Linked DNA regions of Homo sapiens: region 2 is linked to region 1. A link means that fine-mapping ties the variant in region 1 to the expression of a gene that starts in the linked region. Tissue or cell type: whole blood. Region 1 holds a variant in brackets; the other region holds the start of a gene. All regions are shown on one strand. Distances are between the middles of the regions.

Region 1 (8,000 bases):
AAAATACAAAATTAGCTAGGCGTGGTAGTGCATGCCTGTAATCCCAGCTACTCGGGAGGCTGAGGGAGGAGAATCACTTGAACCCGGGAGGCGGGGGTTGCAGTGAGCCGAGATCATGCCATTGCACTCCAGCCTGGGCAACAAGAGCGAAACTCCATCTCAAAAAAAAAAAAAGTAAATTGTGGAAGTTCGTATTTTTTGTTTTTTTTAAAGGATTCAACTCACTATAACCTACCAAAACATTAAAGAAAAACCTTTTAAGTGCTGGACATCAAATGTTAAAGATGCTTTAACAGAATTCATTAACTTCCATTGCACTGTTTTAACTACTATATTTTAAGGCTCAATCTCTCTTGCTTATAAGTAATGTTCTGAGAACAAGAAACTGAAACATTTAACATGTTTTACCCAATGAAGAAAATAGCATTTAAAATTTCCAAGTAAATATAATACTATATAGATATTAAACACTGTTTATTAACAGCATTTAATAATACAGGAAAATTATCAGGTGGTAATGTTAAATGAAAAAAGCAGGATGAAAAATTTCACATACAAATGTGATCTCATTATCCTAAAAATTACACATGGAAATAAGAACAAACTATATAAAATGTAAACACTGACTGTCTCTAGGTGGTGAGATTATGGGCTACTTTAATTTTATTCTTTAGACTTTTATGTATTTTCTGCAATAAGCATGTATTACTTTCACAATCAGAAAAAGGTAAACATTAAACAAATTAGAAAAACAGACTCCACCAAAAATTACAAGTAGAAATTGATGAGGTTTGCAACTGCAAAAACTGTTTTACTACTCAAGTTTTTCATCTATAAGCAATGAAAACACATGAAGATAGAACATATTTTAAAGTGTGTGCATGTGTGTGTGCATATATGTGCGTGTGCATGTGTGTGCATGAGTGAGCACAGAGCTGCCAGCTGGGGCACAGCCTCAGCTGAGAGATTCCTGAGGCACCAGGTCACCTGATTCTAGGGCCTGCTGGTCTCCACTGGGCAGGTGGGGAGGGGCAGCAAGGCCTCCAGTTACAAGGGCACCTGCTTCCTCATTGCCTAAGAGGGCCCCAGGCTCTGCACACAACCCTGCCTCCTGCTGGTTAACAGGACTGGCTTGTTGCTGCTCCAGCAAACAATCTGAGGAAACCCCAGAGCCCACAAACCATCTGTGACCCAGACTGGTTCTTACTGAATCCTGTGGGTTCTCAGAACACTGTACTCCACCACAGAAAAACCAATCTGACGGCAAAGCCAGGCCACCTCCTCCTAACCCCTCCCTCCCCATGTTTGTTTTAGCTGGGTAAAAGTAACTCTGATTAACATCATTTACATGAACAACTTACCACTTACAGCTAATGACCATATGGCACAATAATGATCATGCACATTGTTAAGCATGTGCCAGATTAATTGTGTTGTTCATTGTACTTGATTACCATGGCAATCTGCACTGTAATCAGGGTGCGTTCATCTTCCATGACTATTTCAAGGTCATCCATTTAAACGGTTTAAAAATAATAGAATGCTTCAGGGCAGTAATCTTGGGCAATAAGGTTTATTTCTAAAGCCAGATGTCAGCGTTTAATTATAACAGTAATAATAAATTATGGCAGCTACATTTATCCAGAGTCTACCAGGTAAAGGCACGTTATGAGCCTAATGATATTTCATCCTCAATACAATCTTGTAAGTATCACTTTCCATGTGTGTGTGGTGTGTGTGTGTGTGTGTGTGTGTGTGTGTGTGTGTGTCTAACAGTTAACAGAGAGAATCCGAGCTGAGTGGGCAAAGGATTTTTAAGCAATGGAAGAGAAAAATGGAGACTAGACTCTCACAAAAGCTGAAAGGCAGAGCGTCAAGCTGTGTAAGGCAGGTCACAGGCAGTGAGTAAAGAGGAAGATGAGCAAAAGCTTTACCTCATCGATTAGATGAGGATGTCAGATACAATACAGATAGCAACACCTTAACATCTTAATAAGATGAACAACTAGTTCACACCTAGTCAGTCTGTACACCACCTGTTCAGCACATTTATAATTATGTAGAATTGTTTCTACATCGGGTAACATAATCAGTTTCCCCCACTCCTTGTTTATTTTATATTAAGTGTATAGGAAGCTCTGTTTTCTAAGAACGGTATGTTAACAGATTTTTTTCAGCAGAGGATCAGGAATCAGATCTGAGTTGAAACTCCAGTTCCAATCCTTACTGATAGTGTGAGCAAGAGTAAGAAATGTAACCACTCTGAACCTCAGTTTTTTCATCTGTAAAGTGAATACACTACAGTTGACCTTAAACAACACAGATTTGAACTGCCTAGGTCCACTTATACATGGATTTTCTTCCGCTTCTGCCACTCCTAAGACAGCAAAATCAACCCCTTCTCTTCCTCCTCCTCAGCCTACTCAATGTGAAGACAATGAGGGTAAAGACCTTTATGATGACCCACTTCCATTTAATAAATAGTAAATATATTCTTTCTTATAATTTCTTCTCTGTAGCTCACTTTATTGTTAAGAATACAGTGCGTAATACATAACATACAAAATGTGTGTTAATCAATCATTCATGTTATTGGTAAGGCTTCCAGTCAACAGTAGACTATTAGTATTAATAGTTAAGTTTGTCAGGGGGGAAATATATGTGGCTTTTTGACTGTTCAAAGGGTTGGTACCCCAACCCCTGTGTTGTTCAAGGGTCAAATGTAATTCCTGCCACATCGAATAGTTGAGAATTAAATGATAACCTGGGCACAGTGGCTCATGCCTATAATCCCAGCTACTCGAGAGGCTGAGGTGAGAGGATCATTTGAGCCCAGGAGTGATCTATCCTGGACAACACAGGGACACCCTATTGCTAAAAAATTGAAATAAATAATAGGAAGCATGCAATGAGATTAGCATAATGCGTGGCATTTGCTCAATAACTGTTATTATTGCATGCTAACTGGTATATTTATTTATAGATTTCAGTCATTTAAGACAAAAATGTTAAAGTTAAGTAAGTAAATGTAAATGCAAAATGCCTGAAAGGTTATGAAGGAAGGATGGCTTGATTGTGGCCTTTAAGAATGTTGTACTTACCCATAAATACAAGAGATGTCAATAACCACATCTATCATATCACAGCAGAGCTCATAGGTTTGCATATCCACCGGAGTACTATCAGTTGCAATATAAATTTTACTGACCACATCAAATAGAAATGCCTTTTCAATTCCAGAATTCTGAAATTTAAAAAAAAAAGTTGCCTTAAAGCAACAGTCAACTTCAGACCATGTCATGACTACACAAAATTGAATGCCATTCTTAATGTAAAATACAAAATGAGCAAAACTCGCTACTAAAAATTTAAATTGTATCATTTTATTACAATTTAAACTTCACTGTCATAAACTTCTCTATACTGGACTTGCATAAGAAATAAAAAGTAGAGGCCGGGCATGGTGGCTCACGCCTGTAATCCCAGCACTTTGGGAGGCCAAGGCGGGCAGATCACCTGAGG[C/T]CAGGAGTTCGAAACCAGCCTGACCAACCGGGAGAAACCTGTCTCTACTAAAAATACAAAATTAGCCAGGCGTGGTGGTGCATGCCTGTAATCCCAGCTACTCGGGAGGCTGAGGAAGGAGAACTGCTTGAACCCAGGAGGCGGAGGTAGCGGTGAGCCGAGATGGCGCCATTGCACTCCAGCCTGGGCAACAAGAGCAAAACTCCGTCTCAAAAAAAAAAAAAGAATTCGAATGACCACAAATTATTTATTTTAGGTAACCAAATTGAGCAATATTTCCTAACTCGTAGAGATACATACCTGCAATTAGGAAAAGGCCAAGTAAAAATACTTTTACTGACTGTAAATTTTAAAATAAGCTTAGAAACACTAAACAAACACACTCAAAATTGTGTAGTGACAGAGTAAACGTGAGTATAACCAATAGGTCTGCCTCAATTCAACTCAGCAGCGCCTACCTGGAGCTGGTGATGTGTAGGGTTCATTCAGCACATCACTCATAGCATGTTAAACTTATAAAAAGCTATTCAACAGTTTGCGTCTTATCAATAAAGCCAAGTTTTATGTTCCCTACCTCTGGTGGGGCTCTATTAATATTGAATGATTGCCTACAGGCTTGAATAAACCCTCCAATTATACCAGTGAAGTGCAGGAATGCATCTGAGTAGTTATATTTTATTTTTAGAGACAAGTTCTCGCTCTGATGCCCAGGCTGGAGTGCAGTGGCACAATCATGGCTCACTTTAGCCTCAAACTCCTGGGCTCAAGTAAGTACTCCTTCCACCACAGCCTCCCAAGTAGCTGGGACTACAGGCATGTGCTACCACACCTGGCTAGTTTTTACATTTTTTTTGTATAGACAGGATCTCACTATGTTACCTAAACTGGTCCCAACCTCCTGGCCTCAAGCCATCGTAACGCCTCAACCTCCCAAAGTGGGGCGTGAGCCATCAAGCTGGGCTGGGAGTTAAATTTTAAAGGATCTAAAAGAACACGTAGGAGTAATCTTTAAAAGTAATACTTAAATGACCTTGAAATGCTATAGAAGCAATCGGAAATAAGATCTTTTTCACTCTTGCAATGTTATTTTCAAATTCTACAAGTGACTCAAACAGGAATATTATTTACTTACTGAGATAAAGATGTTCAGCAAATTCTCCAGAGTTGGGAGTTGTGGAATCAGTTTCTGAACAACTTTGCTAAAAGCTTCAAATATTGAATGATCATATATGCTTGTCAGATAAAAGCTGAAAGAGGAAACGGTATTTCATCATGTTTTCCCTTTGAATGAGGAACAGGCTGCTTAGGCTATGTCAAAACACCGGTAATCTGCCTTCTGTATGTATAGTCCTAACACATACAGTCCAGCCCCCTTCAGAATTTACAGTGACCTCGGTAAAAAACAAGCCATTCCTCCCCACCTCCCAAAAAGCCCGAGCTGTGCCTATTCTCATCTGCTGTGCCTATTCTCATCTGCCAACTGGCAAGCTTACAACCGCAGCAATCTGTGTCCATCCCAGCTTCCTGACATTCTGCAAGACAATCCATGCCAGATCATCTTTACACAAGCCTCTTAGGTTGTCCAATTAGTAACTTATATTCTTGATATTGAAGCAACTATTTTTTTTCCATTTCCCAATTTACAAAATGATGCATGTACTACCTCACAAAAAATGATGGAAACATTGTTTTCCTTTGTGAGGATTCCTATTTGGATTGTTTTCAGACTACTCCTTTACTTATAATTACAGATAATATCTTTATCAAGAACTGTAAACTTTAGCATCAACTAACTACTAAAATTATATTCATAGGTTTTCTATAATGTGTTTCTCATGTGAGGGGAGAACCTTAGCTTTGACCATTTGTTAAAAAACAAAAAAACATCGCTTTCACTAAAGATTAGCATTAGCACATGCAAAGCTCATTTTCCCCTAATCCTATCCATCTACAGCATGAAACAGGGTAAAAAGAAGGTAAATTACTGCCCATGCCAAGCCAATCATGGTGACTCCGAACCCCAAACTTGCTTTCTTCCATCCTTTATTGGGATCCTTAAGGGGTTTCTGTTCTCACCTGAGGTGAATTTTTTCTAATCCAGCATCTGCAAGGTCATCGTTTGCCCTCTGGTGAATATCTCTTTGGGTTTCAATTTTGTGGTCATCTGACAGACCATCCACTTTATGAATAAACACCTCGAAGTTGATGTCAGTATTCACTTTGTAGGCCCTGGTCACCGTGAGGTGGAGCCTGGCCAGGGCTTCCATGTAATCATCCTAGGACCAAAGGCAACGCCTGTGAGAGAAGGCCGCTTTGCTTCCTGAGCCTCCCACACACACTCTTCACCTGGAAACCATGTGGCTGCAACCCCCCGAAATACGTTGCAAAGGTTCCCCTCAACAAGCTGGCTTCTTATAATTCCAGTGTGAAAATTTAAGTTCTGTTAACAAAGAGAGGAAGAAGAAAGGCTAAAAAAATGCAGCTGATTTAGGCAGTTATGACTGAGGTTGATGACAGTCATAAAGATCAGAGTTGGCTGGGCGTGGTGGCTCAAGCCTGTAATCCCAGAACTTTGGGAGGCCCAGGCAGGTGGATCATGAGGTCAGGAGATTGAGACCATCCTGGCTAACACGGTGAAACCCCTTCTCTACTAAAAATACAAAAAATTAGCCAGGCGTGGTGGCATGCGCCTGTAGTCCCAGCTACTCGGGAGGCTGAGGCAGGAGAATTGCTTGAACCCAGGAGGCAGAGATTGCAGTGAGCTGAGATCACACCACTGTACTCCAGCCTGGATGACAGAGTAAGACTCGGTCACAAAAAGAAAAAAAAAAAAAAAGATCAGAGTTGCGGTTTCAGGAAGAGAAACGGACCCTACTCCACATAAGACCTTCCCCAGAATACTGTTCCTCCTAACTTTTCCAGTCTCTTGTGAACTGTGATGAACAATTAGAGATGGAGGCATGATACAGGCCACTGGGCGGGTGGGGAAGGAGCTGAGGAGCAATTTTAAGAACCACTGGTTCAGTGCAGAAGTCAGCAGACCACCGTCTGCAGGCCCTGTGCCTGTTTCTTAAAAGTAAGTTGTATTGGAACATGCTCATTTGCTTTCATATTGTCTAAGGCTGCTTTTGTGCTACAATGGCAGAGTTGAGTAAGTTTCCTCTAGAGAAACTCCTCAGAGACAGTACAGTCTACAAAGCTTAAGATGTTTGCCATCTGCCCCTTTACAGAAAAAGTCCCCTGGTCTAGAGGAATTGCCCCAAACAATACTAACTTTTTTCTTCTTCCCATGCCTATATAATGAACACCTGTGTATTTATCTCTATTTAGGAAATAAAACACCTACACAAAAGCCCTCTGTGTTTCTCCTCATCCTCCCAACCCATGCTATCCCTCTACCCCCTCATCCTCTAGAGACAACCACTATCCCAAGTTTAGTATTTATTCTCACTCATGTATACATTAATACAGACATATATATCCCCAAACATCACATATAATTCATTTACATTGTTTAAAAATGGAAAGAAATATTAAGTTGTGTGTATATTATAGTTTGCCTTTTTCATTCAACACTATGTCAGTGAGATTCACCTATGCTGAATGTTATCTGTAGTACATAACTACAGTGCATTAGTTCCTTTTAATGGCTCTATAAAACTTCCTTTTATGGATGATCTATAATTTATATTTGCCTGCTGATGGACATTATTCCCATGTATATGTGATTACAATGATATATGTACAGTCTCATGTACATGTGGCTTACTCTGAAGGGTGACTTGTCAGGTCATAGGTAGGAGTGCCTTGACTGTACCTGGAAGTCTGTAAACAGCATCTGATGCTTCAGACCCTCACCAACAATTGGTGGTGTCAGATCTCTTATTGCCAATTTGAAGGGTGTGAACAGGTCTTGTTTTTATGGCAAAAAAAAAAAAAGGAAAGAGACCTGTAGGACAGAATCTAAATGCCTTCCCCCTCTGCCCCGCCACTTGTGCCTCCAAACCTGGAAAAAACAGAAAGCCAATATAATTGGGGGTGTTTTCTGGCATTCTTCTATGCTCCAAACATCAGTAAAAATGTATCCCTAGTCTCTAGGCAAATCAAATATTAATTATACAAATAGGAAACTATGAAGAGGGAAAAACCGCAAATGGAGTCCTTCCCATCCTTCACACTCTACAGAGTTGTTTAGAATAAAGGACAAAAGCCAGGAGCAGTGGCTTGTGCCTGTAATCCCACCTACTGGAGAGGACTGCTTGAGTTCAAGACCGGCCTGAACAACACAGTGAGACCCCTATCTCTAGAAATATATATATATATATATATATGTAATTAACCAGACTTGGTGGTGCACACCTGTAGTCCCAGCTACTCGGAGGCTGAGGCAGGAGAATTCCTTGAACTCAGGAATTTGAGGTTACAATGAGCTATGATCTTGCCACTGCACTCCAACCTAGGTAACAGAGTGAGAGCCT
Region 2 (8,113 bases), 33 kb after region 1:
GTCTGTGCTAAAAGTGAAATTGATTGTCACCAGCATTTACTATGGGCTGGGGGAGGATTGAATAACACAGGGGGTGAACTTGGGGCAGACTCAGTTATCTTTGAAAGACAAAAGATGATCTCTCAAACCCAAAGTCATCGGCTCTTATCCAGAACTTGCTGTTTGTGCCTCCCGTTTCCATTAGACTACCCTCTATCTAGTATTAAAATGGAAGAGATCGCTAATAAAAGTAGAGAGTCAGTACTCTCTGATGCCCTGAATCACTGACACAGGTTTATAAAACATCTGATATAGAAAGATACTCTCTAAATACAGGCATTCGAACAAGTATTTACCTAAAGTTTAACTTTGGGCACATCATTTTAACCTATTATGTAGTTTCATCTGTTCCAACTCTTCTGTATTTCCAGGGCCAGAAGGAAATCTAAGAGATAAGCTGTGTCCAGGGCTGTAGTCAAGCCAGCTCTTTTTGGATAAGGCAGAATTACAAGAAAAGGGGCTTACATTTCCATATACTTGATCCTCTTCTAAATACTTCGCTCATTTCTAGCTCATGATAGGGCAGTAGAAAAGCCCCCTGGTATCTCTGAGCCATGATTTCAGTATCAGTATAACTGTTATCTCTACTTACTTCCAAGGAACAATGAAAAGGTGAATTCCCTAATATTTTTAAAATTATTTTAGGAAAAAGCCATGCACAGTCATGCATGCCTATAATCCTAGCTACTTGGGAGGCTGAAGCAGGAAGATTGCTTGAGCCCACAAGTCCGAGACCAGCCTAGGCAATATAGAGAGACCCAGTCCCTTCCCCACAAAAGGCTAACATTAATGAACTAATGATTAATACATATGAATTGCTGGATTCACCCCATCTACATCCTTCAGGAAGGAAGACCCTGGATCTTTCATGCCTCCAGAAACCACCTACACAGTCACTTCCTCAGACCCTAAGGGTGCGCACAGGCTGCTATGAAGGCAAAGACCGAACTTCACTGGACTGTGGGTGAGCAGCTTACGTTAGCCAAGTTTCTCCTAAAAAATGGGAGGGGTTTTGGGGGGAAAACAATTTTACTTTCTGATTAAATATGATCTTGTAATTGCTTTCCCTGTTATTACAGTTTTTAAAGCACAGTAATTTATCAAAAGATTTAAAGTCCATGAATCTAAAAATAATCATTATTTTTGGTGCAATTGTTTTTAACGGCCTAACCATTCCCTCCTCTCTGGTAGTTTTATCTGGAGTGTGGGGATTGAAGGTGAGACTCACCTTACCTGCAATTAACTACCATGAAAGGAAGGTTGAGAGGTGCCCAAATCTGCCCTAACAGAACTAATGTGCCTGAGAACACTTTTGCTATTCATGAATAAAATATGGAGTGGAAGCCAGAGAAGTGCAATTTAAGTCTCACCTTAGTTGCCCTATGTTTTCAAACTCAGTACAATGTGGTAAAATTTACAAGGCATACTCGGTTTAAAAATAAGACCAGAGGTTCCTTTATAAGTCCTACAGACTGAGGGAAATGAAAATTGCATTACATATCCACCTTTAGTCCACTTCTCTTGCACAGCTCCTGATAAATTGCTTTGCAACTTAACTGGCAATACTAGTTGGTCCCACATCCCACCCTCAGCCTCCCACCCACCAGGGTAGATTTCTGAACTTAGTGGAAAAAGTCCCACGTCTCCACTAAGTGCAGGCACTAAACCAAGCTATTAGGAAGGGGAAAGGGGAGTGGGGGTTCATTAGAGAAATGCTTTGCTAGTGGTTCAAAGTACATCTTTTCTCAGAATAACTCCTTTTTTTCCCTACATTCTATTTCTTAAGTTTGAGAGTAGGTAAATGTAAATTTTACCAAAAATAAAACAAGATTATAATGCAACACGTGAATCAGCCTTTTGAAGGGCACAGGAAGGGAAGTCACAACTCCCAACCTCCTCCTCCCAATCCCCACTCCCCAGACCATATCAGCTGGCCTGACAGCCATCAGGAGCAGTCCTCGCTGGAATTGCTGACTGAGGAGCCTATCTGACACTAGAGAGCAAATGTCCTGACAAGGGATTCTGCATCAAGGCCTAAACCCAAAAGTCAAAGCCAGGGAAATCTGGAAAGAACAGAGGCCAAAATATAACGGAGGAAGTCTGAGAAGCAGACCACCTATCCACTGCAGGCCCAGGTGGACAGAGACCAGGCTTAAGCAACGTTTGCCGAGCAAACATGTTGCTCTTCTCACAATATAAATATATTTAATCCTTTTATAGCAAGATCCCAAGCTGATCCCAAAAGCCCATTCAGAAGGATTTTATTATGCGAGTCACCAAAAATCAGTTACAGGCAAGTTTGCCTTTACGTTAACAGCTAAGGAGCCTCCAAGTCTGGGCTCTGGGGAAGCCCTTTGTTCCGGGAATCCCATCCCTCAAGCAGGGCTTTAATTTCACTTCAATTTCAAGTCCCCAAATCAAATTTTAAAAGTGCCCACTTAAAGAACTGCAGAATAAACGAGGGGTCCAGTACTTTTTCTGGACCCTCCAGGCCTCAGGACAGTATCAAATTACAGGGCTTTCCCTCCTGGATATGGCCCCTCCGCCCCCCCACTTTTTTTCTTTTTTAAAAAAGAGAATCCCACACACACCCTACTGTGTCCACCATTTCAAATACCTTGCAAATACATCCCTATTCTGCATCTCTCCGGAGTCTTCTAAGAATCTGGGAGGAGCTAACAAATGGAATTTGAATAATAATGAGGCGACTGAACAATTTAATTACGGAAGGTAGCTCTAGAGACTCCAATAAAACGGCTGAAAGCCTTTATCTACAAAAATGTGGCCTGGTGCTCAACGGTAAGACCAATTACCGGGAGTGCAGAAGACAGAAAGCACAAAGGTGCACACATCAGTTTAAGCAAATGAGGAATTAGCACAAATCATCCCAAGAGAGAAAACGCTATGAAAAAGGGTGACTTGAGAGGCTGCTTTCTCATCTACCAGGCGCAAGGCATAGTTAACTTTATTTCCTTTCTGATTCATTGAAAGTCGTGCCTGCCAGATGTAGAATAATGAAACTACCCTAGTGAGAAAAGCTTTGCATAGAGAATTTAAAATAAGTTCAGTGAATTCTCAATAAAAGTTCTTTAAAAATCAATAGTCACAAAGGTACTTGTATCTCTCACACAATTTCTTCAGTGTGAAACATTAAAGTTAGTTCCTTCTCTTGGATGCATACAGTTTCACTGAGAATAACATCATGTTTAACAGCCGCTTTCTATTGACCTTTCCAAGTGACCTTACAGTAAAGGAACTTTTGCTCGCTTCTGAGGGAAACTAAAAAAAGTTTAACCTCTCTGGAATACTAAAAGGCTCTCAACTTCCTTACACCTTAAGAAAATGCAGGAAGCCCCCACAAGCTGAACGATTGCTAAAACCCGCTTCTAGAACAGGAAAAAGAGTTTGCTTCACTATTGAAGCAAAGAATTCCCCGCCGCGCGCTCACTCCCGGGCAGGCACTGCCATGTCCAGGTGGTGATACCGAGAGCAGATAAGGTGTCCTGACAACGGTGTTTGCGTGGATCCCGGGAAATCTGCGGCCTCTCGGAGACTCCCACAACAGCTTGGCGAGCATCCCCCCGCCGCCCCGCGGGTCTCCCCAGCCACTACCTGGGTGGGCCCCTCCCGCGGCGACGCGGGGCGAGACTGACACCCGCAGCTGCCGACGACCCTGCCAGTCACGCCGCCGCCGGCTGCCTTTTTTTAGCCACGACATCTGACCCTGGCTTCAACAGCACCGTTCTGGGAGAGAGGTCCCAGGGCGCGCCCGCGGTCCCCTCCCCTCCCCAACCGCCAGACGCTGCGGAGAGCTTGGGGTGAGGGGCGCGGGAGGCACCGGCTCTGAAAGGGGCAGAAGCGCGCGCTCCTCCAGCCCAGACGCTTACTCCCTCCTTCCCCTTTTCCACCGATCCTGGTTGCCCCTCCGCCACCAGCACCGCGCTCCCTCATTTGGCAGCTCGAGGTCGGGCTTTTGGCGTCCCTCCCCACCCCAAACCCTCAACTGGACCCGCTCCCCTGGACCCCCTCCAAGTCGGTGGCTCGCGCACGGCCGGGCTGGGGGCGGGAAGGCGCCAAGGGGAGGAAAGGGGCGCGAGCCGAGGACGCGGGGGCCGGGCGCTCACCTCCCTCCTCTGTGCCGCTGTCCGGATCGGCGTCGGAGGAGTCGGGCCCGTCTCCGTAGTCCGCTAGCCCCACCAGCTCATCCTCCTCCTCCTCCTCCTCCGCGTCGTCCTCGTCCTGCGGCTGCGGCTTCCCCAGCACCTGGCTCATCGTGCCCACCGGCCGGCCGGCCCGGGGACGGCGGGGGTCCCGGGGTGGGGGCCAAGCCTCCTAGCCGGCCGCCCGCAGCCTATTTCTGAAGCGGAGGTTTGTCTAGAGCTCAGCGGGGCCCGGCGGAAGCGGGGGCCGCGCGTCCCCCGGCGGGCGGCGCCCAGGTCCGGGTCCCGCGGTTCCCAGCGCGCCCGAAGCCCCCTCCCCCGCCCCGCCCGCCGGCGGAGGAGTCAGCCGGAGCGCGGCAGTTCCTCCCGGAGGAGGGAGAGAGAGAGAGACTGCGTGACCCGAGTCACCTGACACACACTGTCACATACTCACATACACACCCCGCACGGGCGCGCGCGCGCTCGCCCGGCCGCGGGCACCACTCGGCGGGGCGCTGGGCCGAGGACACACATGCACACGCACACGCACACGCACGAGGAGACCGGGGAGGCGCGGGGCCCCTGCACCCTCCCAGACTCACACCGACACACGCCCCGTACACGGGGCCCCCGGGACGCCGGCCGTCACCCACCGCGGCTGCGCGCCAGGGGCCCCCACGCGCCTCTCCTTCACGTGGTCCCCGCACAGGCAGGGGAGGGGGCGCCGCACACCCTCAATGTCCCCCCCGCCGTCCCACTCCCACACGCCCGCAGAGCGTCTACCGTGGGCGGATGCCTCCTGCTTACAGTCCTGAGCTAGGGTCCCAAGCGGGTGGCCTCCCAACACTGTGGCGCCCAGATCCCCCACCCCAGAGCAGCGTGCCCAGGACACCCTGTGGACGCTCAAGAGCCCCAGGCGGAGAACTCAGATAAATGCACAGTGGAGGCGCAGTCTCCATAGCAATTGTCTTTTAGTGTGCCTTTATGGTTCAAAGTGCTTCCCACCAAGAATATTTAAAAAGCAGGCCTACCCAGACGTAAATGTTTCTGAAGAAATCACATGACTCGTGGCTGCTTAGACTAAATAATTCCTCTGCAGCCCTTTGGAAAAGGTCTCAGTGTATAACACACTCGGGGGCTATTCATGGCCACCTCCTCATGTCTCATTGTTGCATAGACTGTAATCCCACATGAATAAAATATTTCAAGGCTTTTGTGGGAGTAGGGGAGTGGCGGTGGTGGGGGGGCAATTCTCAAATAGGAATAGCAGCAACGTGGAGTGAGACTCTAAAACCTGCATTCCTCCTTCACAAGCTTTTCACCACGGAACACACTGTACCCACCCTTTCTGGGTACTGCAAAAAATTACGTGGATGAACTTCCTTCTGTGGAGCACAATAAGAAAAAACCGGCCGGTCAGCATGATGATCCAGCTCCTACAGGTGCCAGCAGCTCAGCCGGTGGTGCGGTGCAGAAGCGGAGGGAGGAAGCTAGGGCAGGAGACTCTCAGGGCCCAAGGGTGCTAACCTCCATAGGAAACATTTATTAACCACCTCCTATATGCCTGAGGCTGGGCTAAGTAGAGGGTCCAAGAATGCTCAGGGCAGTGTTCCTGCCCTGAAGGAGCTCACAGTCTACCAAATCATGACTCATGTCCTGGATTTTTTTTAGTATTTCTGAGTGCAGAAGGTGGATGCAGACACTTTCCAGAAGGTGGCTGCTTCTAATGGGAAAGGTCCTGAGATTTTCCAAGGGAGGCAGGCAGTATAATTTGGTATGACTGTATCAGTTAAGGTTCTTCCCAGGATGAAACAGACGGTATGTGCAAAGACTTTAACTGAAGCCTTCAAGTGAAGGAACAATTTACAGGGGTGTGGACAGAGTTTAGGGAATCAATGCAGGTATTAGCGATAGTGGGAAGATAACACCACCCCTAAATTTACAGGAGTGAGGAAGGGAGCTAGAGTCCTGGAGAGGGGCCACAAAACAGGAGCTGTAACTGATGAGGAAGCTGCTGCTGCCAGAACGGCCTCACATCAAGGAGAGAGCAAAGACCTCTCTTTCTCTCCATCCATCCTCCCTCCACTCTCCTGTGTCTCCCATTGGCCAAACCCATCTGGTAGCCAGAAGGCAAGGGAGCCTGGAACCTAGTCCAGGACAGAGATTGGATAGGGAGGGCAGGGAGTGGGTCCCTGGGTGGGGTGAGGTGCAAGGAGCATCACCAACACAAGCAGGCACTACATACTCCCATCAGAGGCAAGTTACTTATGCCCTTCTAAACCCGATTGCTTATCAATAGAACATCACTCCTTCTAAGGATTATTAGGAAGATTAAATGAGGCGGAAAAAAAATCTCAGGTACTTACAAAGCTCATTTCCTAGGAGTAATTTTCCTAGCCTATTTTCATCCCTTCCGTCAAAGGAAACCCCAGGGAGGAGGGCCTCCCAGAGTGTGGCTGAGGACTTTCAGCTATTCTATAGCTAGCCCACCATCCTCAAGTGGCCTTTGAACTGGTCTGATTCAAACTGCAAATAACAATTTAGGAGATCTAGAAGACTGTCCAAGGTCAACCCAGACTCAGACGTATAGGGCATTCCTGGGCAGGTTGCCAAGTGTGTAAGACCCATGGACTCAAGGGATCAGGAAAGGGCAGGTCATAATCCAACAGCCCCACTGTGCCTATGGACTAGAAAGGACAGAAATGTCTGATGATCCTCTAACTTCCCCAGGAAGAGAGATCTTAGAAGGAAACAATAGATTGGGGCACACTCCAAGATACTTGAGAATTGGACCATTCTTTTGTTTTTTTCTTTTAACATGGAGTCTCACTCTATCACCCAGGATGGAGTGTAGTGACATGATCTCAGCTCACTGCAACCCCTACCCCCCAGGTTCAAGCGATTCTCTTGCCTCAGCCCCTGAGTAGCTGGGACTACAGGCATGCACCACCACACCCAGCTAATTTTTGTATTTTTAGTAGAGACAGCGTTTCACCATGTTGGCCAGGCTGGTCTCGAACTCCTGACCTCAGGTGATCCACCCACTTCGGCCTCCCAAAGTGCTGGGATTACAGGCATGAGCCACCGCACCCAACCTGGACCATTCTTAAGAATAAGAATAAAATAAAATCCCACAAAAAAATCAGTAGAAGTCAAATCCTCAATTATATTCTACCCCAAGCTAAAGAGTCATATACAGATTTAAGATATTCTAATTTACTACCATTTCAGAAATGTATAGTTGAACAGAACAGGAAAAGCCTTGATTGCTTTTTTTCTTTTGCTGACATCATTTGAATACTGTCAGCTTTCAAAGAAGAGATATGTTGAAAATATCCTAGAAATAGAAGTTCTTGAATTTAAAAAATCATGTGTGTAGAATCTTTCTGAATTTAAATAAAAACTGAAAAACACTACAAGAACCCTGAAAGCCTTTAAGAAACTCAGCGTGGGATCTGCTCAGTGAATTGGCTGCTGCCTTGGCCGCTCTGCACTGGAGCTCAGCCTATGTCTGGGGATGTCTCCCCAGGAGAGTGCTCTGAAGAATGTGAAGATTGGTCTCTGGGCTACCCATGGTTTCTGCTGTGGTATGTAACCATGGCAAGTATGTAACCATGGCTTATACTTGACAGGTGCTTAATAAATGCTTATGGAAAAAAAGAGAGATGGGAGAAAGAAAAGAAGGAGAGAAGGAAGGGAGGGAGGAAGAGAAGAAGAAAAGAAGGGTGGGAAGAACGGAGGAAGATAGTATATGGCTCTTCACACAGATCTAGCCTATTTCTGAGAGAAACTTCAGGAAGAAATAGCAGCCAAGTTTTCTACTTGCTCCAAACCTTGGGAAATGCCACAGTGTGGGTAAATATGAAGTGTTAGCTACAAGAGAGCAACTAGGAATGAGCTGACATGCAAAAAGAGCATAAGTCTTAGGCCTTCAT

What was found. PIP is the estimated chance that this variant, and not a neighbour inherited with it, causes the effect.
Region 2: it holds the start of RRAGD, and the variant in region 1 is fine-mapped to the expression of RRAGD in whole blood (INTERVAL, PIP 0.97).

What each region holds. Positions count from the first base shown.
Region 1 is chr6:89,374,570-89,382,569 of GRCh38, forward strand. It overlaps RRAGD (Ras related GTP binding D), which reads right to left. Exons shown (of 7, transcript NM_021244.5): 3 at 5,599-5,798; 4 at 4,655-4,769; 5 at 3,102-3,244. Among named protein-coding and RNA genes, the nearest start is that of UBE2J1, 26 kb to the left of the region's middle. RefSeq lists enhancers at 528-1,028, 1,029-1,529. The variant C/T (reference allele first, on the strand shown) is at 3,523.
Region 2 is chr6:89,407,683-89,415,795 of GRCh38, forward strand. It overlaps RRAGD (Ras related GTP binding D), which reads right to left and starts at 4,591. Exons shown (of 7, transcript NM_021244.5): 1 at 4,164-4,591. The coding sequence starts at 4,311. RefSeq lists silencers at 3,548-3,647, 3,678-3,787, 3,818-5,007.